Linked DNA regions of Homo sapiens: region 2 is linked to region 1. Evidence: fine-mapped expression QTL. Tissue or cell type: whole blood. Region 1 holds a variant in brackets; the other region holds the start of a gene. All regions are shown on one strand. Distances are between the middles of the regions.

The links. PIP is the estimated chance that this variant, and not a neighbour inherited with it, causes the effect.
Region 2: it holds the start of GNG2, and the variant in region 1 is fine-mapped to the expression of GNG2 in whole blood (TOPMed, PIP above 0.99). The same link has a PIP of 0.9 or more in blood mononuclear cells and lung.

Annotation. Positions count from the first base shown.
Region 1 is chr14:51,968,959-51,977,065 of GRCh38, forward strand. It overlaps GNG2 (G protein subunit gamma 2), which reads left to right. Exons shown (of 4, transcript NM_053064.5): 4 at 1-837. Among named protein-coding and RNA genes, the nearest start is that of RTRAF, 17 kb to the right of the region's middle. The variant C/G (reference allele first, on the strand shown) is at 4,285.
Region 2 is chr14:51,855,969-51,864,075 of GRCh38, forward strand. It overlaps GNG2 (G protein subunit gamma 2), which reads left to right and starts at 4,644. Exons shown (of 4, transcript NM_053064.5): 1 at 4,644-4,822. RefSeq lists a silencer at 4,131-4,210 and enhancers at 4,263-4,764, 4,551-4,760.

The DNA.
Region 1 (8,107 bases):
TGGCTTTTTCATAATTTTATGTCTTACAGTATGGAATTATAATACGAAAATCTTTATATGAGTTTTGGCTTCTTGGTATTTGTACTTATTCAGGGGAAAAAGTCTTTCGATTACTTATGCCTCTATAGAGCTTAATTTCTTGAGAAATTCAACAGTCATTTTCACCAGCATAATTTTATCTTAAGGAATAACTAATAGGAAAAGTCAGCTTAATTATTTAAGGCCCTAGTTTCTACATATAATATATTCGATAGAAATGAAAATCTGCCGTGGAATTAACTAATAAGTAGTAACAATAAACTTCATATTTAGAATGCAAAGTCTATAAAGAATAATTTTACATGATCCTCAATATCAACTCCAGTTTAAAAAGTGTTATTTTTAAAACATTTGAAACCAAGTACTGTTTAATTTCAATCAGAAGATGCAAATACATACTTTGATCTATGTTTGATTTTGCTAATAATATTTGAAGGAGATTGCCTACCAAGGACAAAACAATAAATTTAAAAATCAAACGATTTCTCCATACGCTCATAGTCACATATGGAATTTTGAGAAAATAAAGCATGCTGTCTTTAGGAATTTTTATACTTCTTTGTCTTTCTTCCTTAATATTTGCTTCTAGCTGCTCTTGGCAATGATGAATTGTTATGTATGCATTAATGTTTTGCAGCCCAAAAGTTGTTCACATTTTTCCTATATAAGATCTGTGGAGTGTGTGTTTCAAAGAGAGAACTACAGAAATGTTAAAGCAGGAAAACCTGAATGTGATGTGCACATTTTCATCCCACATGGACAATGTATGTGTTTTAATAAATGGAATTTTCAGATTCATTTCATATGCAGTCAATTTCATTGTGACGGCCACTGATTCTGTGGTCAATTTGAGAAGGATCTGATGGTATGAATGGATGAGGAAATAGGAATCCATTGATTTTCTTTAGGATTTTGTTAATAGAGATGTCCGAAAGAAGAAAAAACTCACTTGACACTCTAAAAGCATTTCTTACTAGGTCTGTACATCTTGGGTACAGCCTTTGGGGACAGAGAAAGGTGGGGGCTGTGAGGAGAGCCCAGGGCTCTGATAGGGTGGAGTATGCAGACAGAGGAGCTGTATTTACACTTTCACTTGCTGCAGGTATGCCACAGTGGGCTTTTTCCCTTATGAAAAATAAAGACTGAACAACAGAAGTGCTGTTCTCTGTAGCTATCTGTGATTTAAAAGGAGTACAGGAGAAGCTAAGTCCTTAGAACTCTAGATGCAGCTGCTCCTTGGAGATCTTCTTAGTCGAGAAAGACTTCTGAATGTTCCTCAGATTATGCCAGTAACAGACCCTGTTAGTAAAGAAGGAAACACTGGATCTCCTGGGACTTGTGCCAGCAACAGCAGCATCTTTAAACCACGGATGAAGGGGGCCACTTGGAGTTTGCACACTAGTGCTCCACTGACATCAGTGTTTCTCAGACTGTGGTCCATGGACCACTTGCTCCAGGAGTATTAATACCTGGAATGCCTCTTTACAAAGCGGATCCTGAGCTACCCACGAACTCAGAATCCCTGGCAGTGACTCAAGAACGTGCATTCTGTTACATGCTATAGTCTGAGGACCACTACAGTATTTATGACAGCTAGCTTTTCATACTGCCAAAGGAAAGGCACAAACAACTCATAAATATTCTCGCTCTTCTTCCCACAGCCCCCAGAAGTGGCTGCCTAGGCATGAACATGTAACTGAAGGGTGAGAATCTAGCCAGCAACTAGACATGCTACACTGAGGAAGACGCAGCTGGGCTGTGACTCTGCTCCTGTTTTGTTGAGCCCCTGTGGGAGGACTGCCTCCAGTTCTCATTCTTTAATAAGCTGGTCACATTGTAGATGGCACTTAGAATGACAGAGGGAATTGGAGCTGGGTCAGCTCCAATCCACAAATTGCAAATAATTTGCCAAGGGAAATCCCTTTCCCTTCGGTTCTGCCCCAAATCTACATTTTCTTCTATTTAGAACCAGGAGACTCAGGCAGAATTTATTTTAATGAAGAAGGCCATGGGCTCCTGGGCCTTTCCTCAGCAAGAACTACTGCTGTTTCTCTCTGGAAGTCATAAGAAAAGCCGGGAGCCGGGTATTGCATCTCCACAATGAAGCAACAGAAAGACGGGGCCTGGGGAGCTCAGTCCACACTGTGCTCGAGCATTAGCATGCACTAGAGAACCAGAACTAGGCTCCAGCGCTCCCATGCGACCTTGGGCAAGTCCTTTGACCTCTCCTGCTTTAAAGTGGGTACAAGAATGCCTGATTCATTTATCTCACAAAATGGTTAAAAACAAATGAAAGAGGATGGGCACAGTGCTCACGCCTATAATCCCAGCGCTTTGGAAGGCTGAGGCAGGTGGATCACTTGAGGTCAGAAGTTCAGCCTGGCCAACACGGTGAAACCCTGTCTCTACTAAAAATACAAAAATTAGCCAAGTGTGGTGGTGGGCACCTGTAATCCCAGCTACTTGGAAGGCTGAGGCGTGAGAATTGCTTGAATCGGGGAAGCAGAGGTTGTAGTGAGCCAAGATCACGCCACTGCACTCCAGCCTGGGTGACAGAGCGTGATTCCATCTCAAAAAAAAAAAAAAAAGAAAAGAAAAATGAAAGAGGTAAAGGGGCATCACGAAGGCAGAGGTGGTAAAGAACCATTAGAAACTACTTGACGGCAACCTTCGAAGAAAGGAAACCGCTAGATAGCTCCTGCTCACCTCTTAACTCACCTCCTTTCTCTCTAGCCCCCAAATGCCCTGGTTGAGACCCTCAGTGTCTCATGTCTGAATTCCCATCACACCAGCTGGTATGGGCATTCTGATGCTCATCTCCTCCCACTTTCACCCAGTTGACCCTGAGTATTCATTAGTCAGGACTTCTTTGATTGCAAGTGACAGAAACCTAATGCCCCAAAATAGGTCCCACTTCAAGCCCAGCTGGATCCAGATGCTTAGAGGATGTCATGGAATGTCCCTGTCATCCCTTGGCTAGGCTATTCTCTGTGCTGGTTTAATTCTCAGACTCTTGCCCCGCAGCATCAAGATGGTGTCAGCAGGCCCAGGTTTATATCTCAACAGTTTAGTAATCAAGGAAGAAAGATAACAACAGCTCTAGCAGAAGCCTCTGGCTATATCCCTGGAACCCTTCCTAAGACACTATTGGCTAGATCTGGTTCCTGTGCTCGCCCACCCCTGGACCTAGGGATAGAGGTAGAGTCACTGGGCCATGTGGGCAGAACAGTGGTTCTAAGGAAATTGAAGTCCTTTTGCTACAGGAGGCAGGATTGAAAGTTAAAGGCAAAAAACAACTGATGCCAACCACATCTTAACAGATTTATTGATGTTACCTCATCTTTCACCATGTTCAGAAACCCAAGGTTCTCTGGTTCATGGTGCTCTTTGTCAACCACATCATGTCCAATCTCAACTACCTGGCTCTCAAGGCCCTTGAGAGGCCCCACTTGGCTAATCCCATCTTGCCATCCAAACCCTCTTTTCCAGTTCATCCTGTCTCCTTCAGTGTGCTGTGAGTTCATCCCACTTCCCTGTCTGCTGCTTTTTACATTTTTTTTAGACAGAGTCTCGCTCTGTTGCCCAGGTTGGAGAGCAGTGACGTGATCTCAGCTCACTGCAACCTCCACTTCTCGGATTCAAGTGATTCTCCTGCATCAGCCTCCCAAGTAGCTGGGATTACAGGCACCCACCACTATGCCTGGCTAGTCTCCCCTTTTGCTTCTGATGTTACCCCCTCTGGAATGTCATTACACAACTCCTTGAGTAACTAAACTTGCTTTTCTGTCAAGGTTTAGCTTGAATTCCACGAGGTCTATGAATGACTTCAGGAAATATGAACCTTTCTCCTCTCTCCACTCCTGTTGCCCTTGCTGTCAGTATTGTTGAGTATTTGACTGTGTTTGAGGCGTTGTGCTAGGGTAGAAGGCATGGCACCTGCCTTCCGGAGCTTGCGGTTTAATGGAGAAAATAGACAAGTGAATAGTCAGTTACCAAAGTGGTCAATTCTAGGACACAGAAGCTAAAGGGAGGGTAGAAGTGATGACCAGCCAGAGGAGGTGATGCTGGAGTTAATCATACTTAAATGATAATCTTTTTTTTTTTTTTTTGAGGCAGAGTTTCACTCTTGTTGCCCAGGCTGGAGTGCAGTGGCACAATCTCAGTTCACTGCAACCTCTGCCTCCCGGGTTCAAGGGATTCTCCTGCCTCAGACTCCTGAGTAGCTGGGATTATAGGTGCCTGCCA[C/G]CACGCCTGGCTAATTTTTGTATTTTTGGTAGAGATAGGGTTTCACCATGTTGGCCAGGCTGGTCTCGAACTCCTGACCTCAGGTGATCCGCCCGCCTCGGCCTCCCAAAATGCTGGGATTACAGTCATTAGCCACTGCGTCCGTCCAAGAATCTTGTCTCTAGGGTAGTGTAACCTTTAGGAAGTAGACAACACTAGGTGGATGGGCTTCTCTTTAATCTTTCCCTCATTGTAGGGCAGCTGAGAATGAAGCTCTCCCCTGCAAAGGGGTGGGCGATTGGCTCTGCACACAAAACAATGGGCCAAAGCTGAGTGGAGGTCGTCACCTCTCCCCCTCCAACCTCTACTGGCTCCGTGTCTTCACAACATCATGGGGACATTGTCTTCAGCCAGCAGCCCTTTGGCCTGGGTGATACCACCATGCACCAACCTGGAAGTCAGATCTCGTGGGCTTCAGGCCCAGGGGCTGCAGGAAATACATTGCTGGCTGTATCACCTTAATTTTAGCCCCAGGGGAAGGGGCCCTTCCACTATCTACTGGGAACACTATCTCTAATTGCCCTTCCCTGTGTGTGCATTTGGCGATTTACATTTAGATATAAATTAACTACAACTTTCAATAAAATTAAAAATTTGGTTCCTCAGCTGAACCAGCCATGTTTTAAGTGCCCAAAGCCACATGCAGCTAATGGCTATTGTCTTTGGACAGCACAGATATAGAGAACAGTTCCATCACCGTGGAAGGTTCTATTAGACAGCGCTGCTCTAGCATAATGGCAACCTTTTTTCCATCACAAACAACTGACTGAATATGCCTTCTCCTTGAGCCCAAATTTTGACAAAACATCAAAAAGAGGGTGAGAAAGTAAAAGTAGTGTAATGACCCCTAATAATCACAACAATTGGCCATTGGTCCTGGTAAATCATCATACAGGCTTTGGCATAGAAGAGATAGACTGCAGATTACATGTCATTCTTGGAACCCTCTAAGTCATATATTCACTCATCTCTCTCACTCATGAACATACAATGATAATAATCATAATGATCACATCAGCCGCAACAATAAAGTGAATGCTTACTTAGTACTTACCTTTGAGCAAGGCACAATGCTAGACATTTTATAGACAGCACTTCATCTAATTTTCACACTAACTCTAGGACACGGTCATTATTTATCTCCTGTAGCAGATAGCTTTGTGCCTCATGACACATCCACGATCCACTGCTGATTTCAGCCACAGCGGCAGTGGAGAGTTCTCTGCAAGCTCATTCTTCCCAGTGAAAATTGGTGCCCCTGGGGCAATCCTCAGCCAATGAGGGACGAGTCTGGAGAAAAGTCTCAGGCTCCCACCCTTTCAGAGGGACATCTCTGGATGCATTTTATATGATTTCTCTGAGCATCCCTAAGAGGATGCCCAGTCCTCAATCAGCCACAAGAGTAACCAGCCCAATAATATGCCATATTGTTTTTCTCACTTAAATCTGCCTCATTTTCTCTCTTCCTACATTGCTTCTTTCTGGGATCACCCTCAACACTACCTTTAATAAACTACCTGCATCCAGGTCCTTGACTCAGGCTCTGCTTTGCAGGGATCTCAAAGTAACTCACCCCTACTTTATAGATGAGGAATTTAGGGTTTAGAACGGTTGACATTTCTCTAAATTCCCATTACCATGAAGTGGCAGACCAAGGATATAAACCTAGGTTTGTCCCGATTCCAAAGATTTAATTCTTAACCATTATCTTATGGTGTAAATTGGAATGTAAGTACATAAAAGGGAGGTGATAATAAAAGCTCTGAGTCTGTTCTTATTTATAGAATAAGCGGATTATTTATAAACTTCAAATCTCTGAGTTACTTCTCTAAAAGGAAGAAATCAGTGAGCTCATGTCAATATTTACATTTTCTTCACAGTGGTCATTTGGTACCTAGAAAGTATCAGCAGTAGCTTCCAGGTTCATCTTGCACTGAAAATATTTCCTGGTATCAAGGAGCCTGTGCAAGGAAGAACAAGAAGAGTGATTCTAACAGGGAAGGCACAGAGTGTTTTTTTTTCTTCAGGACTTTCAGGAAGGAAAACTCTCTTCCTTTACTGACTACTCTTCCAATACCTGCTTTTCTGTCATCTTAGAGCCCAGTGACCCTCCAAGGGTCAGAAGCAGGGTCATCTGAGTAAGAGTAGAAGCTTCCAGAGACTTCACTCTCCAAGCCGTGATTTGAGAAAAGGATCAAGAACGAATTCTAGGACAAAGGCCCTTGCAAATGCAGTTTCAGGGACTCACTCAGAGCTTCTTTGGGAAAAAAGAATGGAGCTTATCTCCTTCCCCCACCGTCAATCTACTTCCTGTTCCTACTCCAGGGATATACGATGTCCCACTCAAGCTTGTAACACAGAATCCCAGCACAGATCAACAGATGCTGCTACACATGCACACACTTGCGTATGTGTGCGCCCAAGGAAAGGCTGTTCCGGAATGCTTAGGAAAGCCAATTGTCACTCTAAGAAGGGACCAGCATGATGTACTGGCATGCCCATCATAAAAAAATCACTACTCCCACCTCTAGGTTGTCTTGGTTTACTTTATAACAGCAGTTCTCAAAGAGTGTTCCAGTAACTCTTGAGGGGACTTGAGCCGCTTTCAGGGAATCTGCAAGGTCAAAACTATTTTCATAATATTATTATGATGTTATTTGCCTTTTTTACTTGCCTTCTTTCATGAACATAATTGGATATTTTAGAGGCTACATATTGACGTCACAACAAATTGAATGCAAATGCACATACAAGAATCTGTCTTCTCTTAAGCCAGACAATAAAGCAATTTGCAGAAATGTAAAACAATGCCACTGTTCCCACTGTATATTTTCTTGTTTTGAAAAATATAGTTATTTGTCATAAGAATATGTTATTTATGTTACCATGTAATGGGCTTGTTATTGTTATTTTCAATGAATTAATACATTTTTTTTTGAGATGGAGTCTTGCTCTGTTGCCCAGGCTGGAGTGCAGTGGCATGATCTCAGCTCAATGCAACCTCTGCCTCCCGGGTTCAAGCAATTCTGCCTTAGCCTCCTGAATAACTGGGATTACAGGCACAGGCCACCATGCCCAGCTTATTTTGAATTTTTTTAGTAGAGACAGGGTTTCGCCATGTTGGCCAGGCTGGTCTCGAACTCCTGACCTTGTGATCCACCCACCCCAGCTTCCCAAAGTGCTGGGATTACAGGCGTGAGCCACCATGCCCAGCCTCATAAATACATATTTTTTAAATTTTCTCAGTTTTAATTCTAATATGGCAAATAACAAGAGCTACAACCCACATAAGCCAAAGCCCTGATAATTTTAGGAGGTCCTCAATAATTTTCAAAAGTGTAGAAGTCCCTAGACCATGAAGTTTGAGAACTGCTGTCTTATAGAATGCCTTTGAGTTCCACTCCCTACTTTCCAGATGGGAAAGTTGAAGTGCCATTCAAAATTATATAGAAATGTAGTGGCAGAGTCATGAGTAGACCGTAAATGGAAAGAGGAGATGATTCAAAAAGGCAGCATAGAAGTGTTTTAGGTCATTCCCTAGGACCACGTTCGAATGTTTTCTAGGAAAACGTTCCTGAATTCAATTTCATAATTAAACAGCATATTGAAAGACAATTTTCCACAAAAACAAAAGCGAAATCATGACTCTCACATAGGTATTAAATGAACACGTCAAAGATTTTCTCTAACTCATTATTAATAAGGAAACAAGGCAGATGTTACCAGTGGCCAAAGCAAAAATAAATAAAAGAGATTTAAAGATCAGGAATACTGAAATGAATTT
Region 2 (8,107 bases), 110 kb before region 1:
TCAAGACCAGCCTGGGCAACATAGCAAAATGCCATCTGTACAAAAAATACAAAAATTAGCTGGGCATGGTGGGTTGGCACACGCCTGTAATCCCAGCTACTCGGGAAGCTGAGGCAGGAGAATCACTTGAACCTGGGAGGTGGAGGTTGCAGTGAGCTGAGATTGTGCCACTGCACTACACCCTGGGTAACAGAGCAAGACAGTCTCAAAAAAATAAAAAATGAAAAAATAAAGAACTAGCTGGGCATGGCGGGGGAGGAGAGAGAAGGAGGTGTACAGCATTGCAGAGAGATTAAAGAGTTTGGGGATTTGGCATATGAGATGCTCTGGGACAGTTGGAATGTGGCAAAGATTTGAGAGTGCAGAAGGGGATGTGAGAAGTGTTTCTAGCTTATTCATCAGTCTCTTTAAAGTTCCTACAGAGATACAAATAAAGAATAGCTTTCTTTTTAATATTTCTTTTCTTTTTTGTTGTTGTTGTTCGAGACGGAGTCTTGCTCTGTTGCCCAGGTAGAGTGCAATGGCAAAATCTTGGCTCACTGCAACCTCTGCCTCCTGGGTTCAAGTGATTCTCCTGCCTCAGCCTCCTGAGTAGTTGGGACTACAGGCGTGCACCACTACACCCGGCTTATTTTTGTATTTTTAGTAGAGATGGGGTTTCACTGTGTTGGCCAGGCTGGTCTTGAACTCCTGACCTAGTGATCTGCCTGCCTTGGCCTCCCAAATTGCTGGGATTACAGGCATAGGCCACTGAGCCCAGCCTTAATATTTATTTTCTAATTACTTTTTTGTTGCCAGACTATGCTTCTTTATAAGAAGTTCAATGCAGAAATGGAACTAGGAGTTGTCCCAGAATTTTTTAGGCTTGCCCATATAACAAATATTCAGAATTTTGTGTGCATGTGCCATGGATTTCTATAGAAAATTTGCAAAATATATATATAGAGAGGGAGGGATTTTATTTCTTACCCCATGACCAACTTCTCATTTTTGAGACTTCCTTTTCCTCCCCTCACTCAAAGGAATGGAATTTCTGCCAATGATGCCTTTTCATTATACAAACATCTGTTGACTCTGCTGTGTGACAAGCAAATGTGGACCTAACCTTAATGGACCCAAATGCTAATGGGTGAGATGCACATCTAACAAAACCTGAAAATAATGGCTTTAGTGCTGAAATGGAAGTAGAGGCAAGGCACCAGTCATACTCACAGAAAAGGAAGCACCTGCCTAGTTTCCACGGCCAGGGAAGGCTTCTGAGAAAAGCTGAGTCCTAAAGGATAAGTAGGGGTTTACTAGCAGGCAAAATAGAGGAAGGGATAGGGCATTTCTGGCAACAGAAATAGCATGTGCCAAGATGCAGGGAGAAAGCAGCACAGTCCCATCAGGAACCTGTTGTGAAGGTTGTAGGATATAAGGCTGCGACAGGCCCTAAGGTGAGAATGTGGACAGGTGACATCACAGAAGGCTTTGTATGCCATGCAGAGGAATTAAGGCATATATCCTGTAAGCAACCTGGAGGGGAAGATACTGAAGAATTATAGTAGGAAAGTGACTTGATCAACTCTCCATCTCAGCAATGTACTTCTGATGGGGATGGCTTCGAAGAGAGACTGGAGGTAGGAGGACAAAGTAGAAAGTATTGTAATTGCACAGAAAAAACCAAAGCATTTGTAAAATAAGACAGTGGCAAGAGGAAGAGAGAGGAGGGGTTTGGGCAAGGAGATAGTTTGGTGGTGAGAAGGAAAGGAAGAGGAACTTTAAATCAGATTGGGATAACAAAGATAAAAGGTTTTGGGATTATTCTTATATTCCTGATGTGGGCAACTGGTTTGTATTCCTCATTAAATGAAATGGAGAATATAGAAAGAGGAACAGGCTTTGGATGAAGGTATAGTACATAATTTGGGGATTATTAAACATAACTCCAAGGAACATCCAGCTAGAAAGCTCAATAACATAGGAGAGACATCAGGCCAAAATTATGTCCTCCTCATTACCCAACCTCCGCTACCAGTAGATGTAAGAAATACAAGGTATTAATGCCTGCAAATAGGCCATGCATGAATGTTAGAGTATTTTACAGACTTTGTTTTACCCAGTGATAAAATGTACTGGGATAGGCTCATGGTTAGCAATTGATGCATAAACTATTAATGGCGAGATGTCATTTTCCTAAGAAATTAACACTTTGCAAACTTGGTATGCAAACTTGTGTTAAGAGCTCTAAACTGGATTAATCTATCCTGGCCAAGCTATACCCCCACACTTTACTTTTCTCTCCTGAAAAAGAGGCTATTAGGACCAGTTGAAAAGCAATGAGGTATTAATGAAAGAGAGGTCTTAAAATCTAGTTTTTAGCTTTGTATAGAGTTTTGTTGGCACCTCCCAACACTGGCGATTAACCTACTGTGAGTTTTATAAGGGCCAGAGATGGAAGAACTAATTAAAAGGCAGCAGGCAAAATTCCTAGAGATTTTATTGTTTGAAAGAGGTTTTCCTATATAGGCTTAAGTATAAATACCAACCTATATAGGCTTAAATATAAATACCAACCATCGGAGGATGGTTGAGAGAGAGTTAGAAACAAAAAGACACAAAAAATTACTGTACTTGAATCTAGAGTTTATGCCAGAACCTACTTGTCTAAAATTAACCATAGTCTTGTTTCCAACCATTAATAACATGCTTCTCATTTTTCTTAGACTTGGCATCATGCATATTTAAATTTACATTTAAAAGTTCCTGGTAACCTTTGGCACAAGGGTTCCTGGTTTGGAGATAACTCACATGTTGGTGGATTCATGCCCAATCCCTCTCACTACTGCATTTCTATCTGCTGGTGGATCAAAGCTAGTTGCTCATTTTCAATCTTAAATCAATCCATTTTGTAATTTTCAGGTGTGAGTGAGTTGACATCAGGGTCCTTTTTGATGAAAGATTTCCTTGAAAAAATAAGCAAACTGTTCAAATCAAAACAAAGGGTGTTTTGGGACTGTCTCAGAACATTTCATAGAAATTAAATTCTGTACCTTCTAGGTTAACGTGCTGTGGTCCTCACGATGTGTTTGGAAGGCTCAACTGGAGAGTTATTCTCCATCAGTCCTAGATTTCTAACATTTCCTGTTAGTTTACTTGCTGGAGGATTAAGGCAAAACTGGATTAAAAAGGAGGAGTTGGGGAATTAACTGTTTCCTGGCAAGATTAGCTTTCCAGGCACTGATTCCTGAGAAGAGGTGTTTTTTGTTGTTGTTGTTTTTGTTTTTAACTCCATAATGTTGCCTGGACACTAGAACAGGATTCCCCTTCCCCCATCTCATGTTTAATCTGTAGCTTCCCCAAAGTACCTTGTGTTAGTACTAGGGGGAGAATGACTCACACGTTGAATAAATTGTTATTAAAGCATCTGGGCTCAATTGTGAACATACTAATAGTGAGGAATTGGAAAACCAAGTACTGGTGAGGGTTCGGCTGCTGACTGGCGAAATCACTTGCTGAATGTGAGGCCCAACATCCTCTAAAAATAATAAGAGTTAATATGTGCCGAATACGTCCTATATCCCCAGAACTATTATTAGCACCTTGTATACCATCTCATTTAATCCTCATATTTCCAATGTAGAGCATGACTATCATCAACTATGTTTTGCAGATGAGGAAACTGAGGCACATAGATGTTAAATAATTTGCCCAAGTTCATACAGTCATTAATGGCAATTTGGATTGAAATTCTGGCAGACAGAGACAGCTTGCAGGCTCTACCCTGGTGGGTTCTACGATATTACCTCCTAAGATGAAGGGAAGGGACTGGAGGATCATGAGGGTCCTTCAGCCCTACTAGTGTGTGTGGAATGGGGAGAGGAGTATTCAGTTTCTCTGTTGGGAATGTGCAGCATTCAGCACCACCTCATTCCTTCCCATCTATGAGAATCTTTTGGGAATAGTCCTCACTATTAGGCCTATAGGTAGCATTGCCAACTTGGTTTAGTTCCCGTGCCCCATAAGAATACTTATCAGGGCCATTCTTTTCTGAGCATGTGGGTTAAGTAAGATCTCAGTGGTAGTGGGACCTTGGAGAAATGAAGCCTCTGAAATGTTGGCCACAGAGAAAAATGCTGCAGTGAGAAGCTGCAAGCTGCAAGCTGCAAGCTCCCAGCTAGCTGGCTTGATGGGGACCACAGTAAATCAGGAGGAACAGTGGAGGCTGGTGTGGGATCTCGGGGGCCAGAACCTGGCCAGGGGATGTTGACCCAAAAAAAAACAGCAGCAGCAGTAGAAACAACAACAGCAAGAACAACAATAGCAACAAGCCAGGTTCAGGCTAAAAAAGCAGGCAGTGTGCCAGGAAGGGGGCCGACTGAGCAGTGTGTGGAAGCTGTCGTGGAGGTGACCGTGGGGGGATGAGAAAAGGGGAAGGAAGGAACAGACAGCACCAGAGGGACTTGAACAAAGGGAGAAGGGGGATTAAAGTCAAATCACTGTCAGCAGCCCAGGAGCAGACAAAACCACCAGAGTAAGCCCTGAAATGGAAATGAGAGGGAAAAGAAGCAAGCCGCTAACAGCTACCAAGAAGAGGAGGAAGTGGGAGATGCGCTGCTTCCTGTAGAAAGAACGTTGATTGAAGACAAAGCTGGGTGGGGACTAGTCCCTGGGCTGCAGCCGCTGCTACACATACTCACAACGCTGCCGCCGCGCTCCGTGGGCAACTCCTACTACTGCTGGGCTGGGCTGGGCTGGGCTGGGCTGCGCCGGAGCTCGCCTGCACAGATCAGCTCCGGAGAGGGGAAAACCACGCTCCTCGGACCAAGCCTCGGGAGCTAAGGTAAATGAAACGTTTTCCATGTTGCTCGTTTTTAATTGAGAAAAACGACCGTCGCTTGTGGTTTTAAGGTCCGATTTCTAAGGGATGATAGAGACATCGCTTCAGGACTAGGGGAAATGATTAGATTCTTTTGGAAGGGTCTTTGAGAATAACCACATTTATGACACATTTGATTTAAAAAAACCTCATCATCAGTGCTTAGATTTGATGACTAAACAGGCCAACATGCTAAATACAAGAAGCTGTTTGTATAGTTCTCTCGGAGGAAAACCAGGGCTGAGTCGAAATCCATCTGGGGCTGTGAAGCTGTGGTCTGGTCATCGGAGCCCGGCAGTCCCCTTGTTTTAGGGGAGTGAGTGGTGTAAAATATTAATTGCATTCTCTTTCTTACACATTGCACTGGGATATCTTCTGTTTTGCAAAAATAATGGCTGTGATTTGGCTTTTGGGGGAGTTAAATTCTTTTGTACTTAGATTTTGCCAACAAAGGCTTGAATTGCGTATGTGAGGGGCAGTATTTACCATTAAAAAACAGTGTCTTCCTCCCTCAGCTTGTGCAGCTGCTTTCAGGATAACCTCAGACACAGCTATCATTTGCCAGTAGGTCTTATCCTAAAGTTGCATCCTTGTTCAAAGGAGCGTGGCGGGTTTAAGGCCAGTAACTTGTCCAGAATCAGATACTAGCATATGCATGGATTTTATGTTTATATGCATTTTATTCACCTCTAGGTCAAGGTGCATGTTAGCCTCGGTGAGGGACAAAATAAAAAAGTGCAGCTGGGTTGTTTCCTTACGCGAATATCTGGTAGATAGACTGAAGTAGTAAAACCAGAACATGATTTTTATTCTTTGATTTTCTTGAGCAAAGGATGTTCTTAATGAGAGCCTGGGTCTATGACTTGTTCATATTTATGAATGATATGTAAAAGTACACTAAATAGGTCTAGCAGATGAGAACTGAGATTGTGAGATTCCTCTGACAGGATATATTAGGGAGTTTAATACCCTCATGCAGCACGATTTAAAGAATTAAGCTTTTTTAATCTTCAACAGAAAGTACAGTTAAGCAGTAAGTAGTCATTGATAAAAGGGTTTTTCTTCTAGAGTTTCTATAATGAAAGGAGATAATTTTTCAAAAGAAAGAGAAAAAACTGCTTATAGTGGAGTAAAAATTTAAAAAAAGTCAATATTTTGACACTCACAGATTCTTGAAACATAGGTTCTTAGATACCAAATATGCTAGTTGAGAGTGTATGTATGTATATGCCTCCTCCTTTATCATCGTTCTCACTTGTTAAGAGCTATAGGGCTATTTTTAATGCTATCTTTATGAAATCGATATGGCTTCTCAAAATCTGTGGAGTAGCAGCACATTTTGAGAGATGGGAAGCTTTTATAGCTACTAAAGAAAAAAAAAGTCTATTTCTCAGAGGTTTTTTGCTCATTAAAGTAAACCTGCACCATGCCTAAGAGACAAAGTACTGCTAGTATTGAAACCATGGAACTCCTTGAAGGATTCACTGAATTTAATCAAACTTGTGGGCAAAACAAGTCGTGACATGGATTTTGCAGTTCCACTTCCTATTTGCATCTTAAAGGGAAGTATGTAAAGATCATCTTCTTAGAGAAGAGACCTAGGATAGATCTTCGATCCAGAATGACCCAGTGGAGTTCTAGAATCAAGCTGTGCATCATGAAATGAAGTAAAAAGTTGGCAACCTGAGCTGCATGGATAAGGACAGGCTTACCCTTTGGTACTTACTCCTCTGCAGGCTGTATTCACTAGATAATGCCAACACCCTACTTTGTTTGGGGAGGCACAGACAATCTGCATTAGTCTTCTGTGTGTGTTTCACACATGAGTAAGAAAATGAAACCTTGCCCGACGGGCATAGTAGAGTCAAGAGGGCCTTGCTATCTTTCTGAAAACAACTAAGAGGTGCCTATTTTCTGCACAGCACAAAACATTTCTTAATCGTTAAATTCCAGCTTGAAGCAGAACATTAGTGAGTAACAGCAGATCAGTAACTATGATGGTAGAATGTTTAGGAAAAAGATGAATATGCTTCTACATTGTAAAATGAAACTATTTCCACTTATTCTGGCCATATGGAATATTGAAAGACTTAATGATTTTTCCTGGGGTATTCACTGGCTTTTGAGGAGTAGACCAACACAGAAATTTTAATTGTGCTTTTTTTTTTTTTTTCTGCCATATGGCCAATGGCTGAATGGAAACATGACTCCATTATTTCATTGCCAGCCTTGGGCCTCATATGGTGGACATGTAGTGAATGTGTTTGTTTGACTGACTTTGTTTAGCCTGCTTCAGAAAGCAGGCCCAACTTTTAAGTCTAAAAGCTGTATAGTCAAAGTAGAAAGCCTGTTCATAAAAGACTTCTGTGGGTAGGAGAAAACACTGTGGAGTGAAAAGAACGCAGGCTTTGGAGCCAGGCAGATCTGCCTTTGAAACCTATTACTGGTTCTTACTACTTACCTTGGTACATTAACTTAGGAACCTCAGTTTCCTCATTGTAAAGAAGGGCTAGTAATACATAATCAAAGTTGTTGTTTTGCTTTGTTTTTGCTTTTGTGTGCGGATAAGTGAGTGATTTCTACATAGAAGGTACTGAAATGTTATTTTTTTCTTCCTTGGTGGCATAAGGAAAAGTTAGCATATTCTTGGTCTTTACCACTGCCTCACAGGTTTAGGGAGACTTTTTTTATAGTGATAAAATATACATAACATAACATTTCCCATTTTAACTATTTTTTTAAGTATGCAGTTCTGTGGTAGCGAGTACATTGATGTGCTGTCATCACCACCGTCCATCCATAGAACTGTCTTTATCTTGCAAAACTGAAATTCTATACCCATTAATCAATACCTCCTCTTTCCCTCCTTCTCTCAGCTCCTGGAAACCCCCATTTTACTTCTGTCTCTATGAATGTGACCAAGTATCCCATATATGTGAAGTCATACAATATTTGTCCTTTTGTGACTGGCTTAATACACTTAGCATAATGTCTTTAAGATTCATCAATGTTGTAGCATGTGCTAGAATTTCCTTCCTGTTTAAGCTGAATAATATTCCATTGAATGTATAGACTATACTTTGTTTATTCTCTTTTGATGGACACTCGGGCCATGTTTTGGCTATTGTAAATAATACTGCTATGAACACGGGTGTACAAATATCTGTTAGAGTCCCTGCTTTTACTTCTTTTGGGAACCCAGAAGTGAAAATGATGGAACACAGTAATTATATATTTAATTTTTGAAGA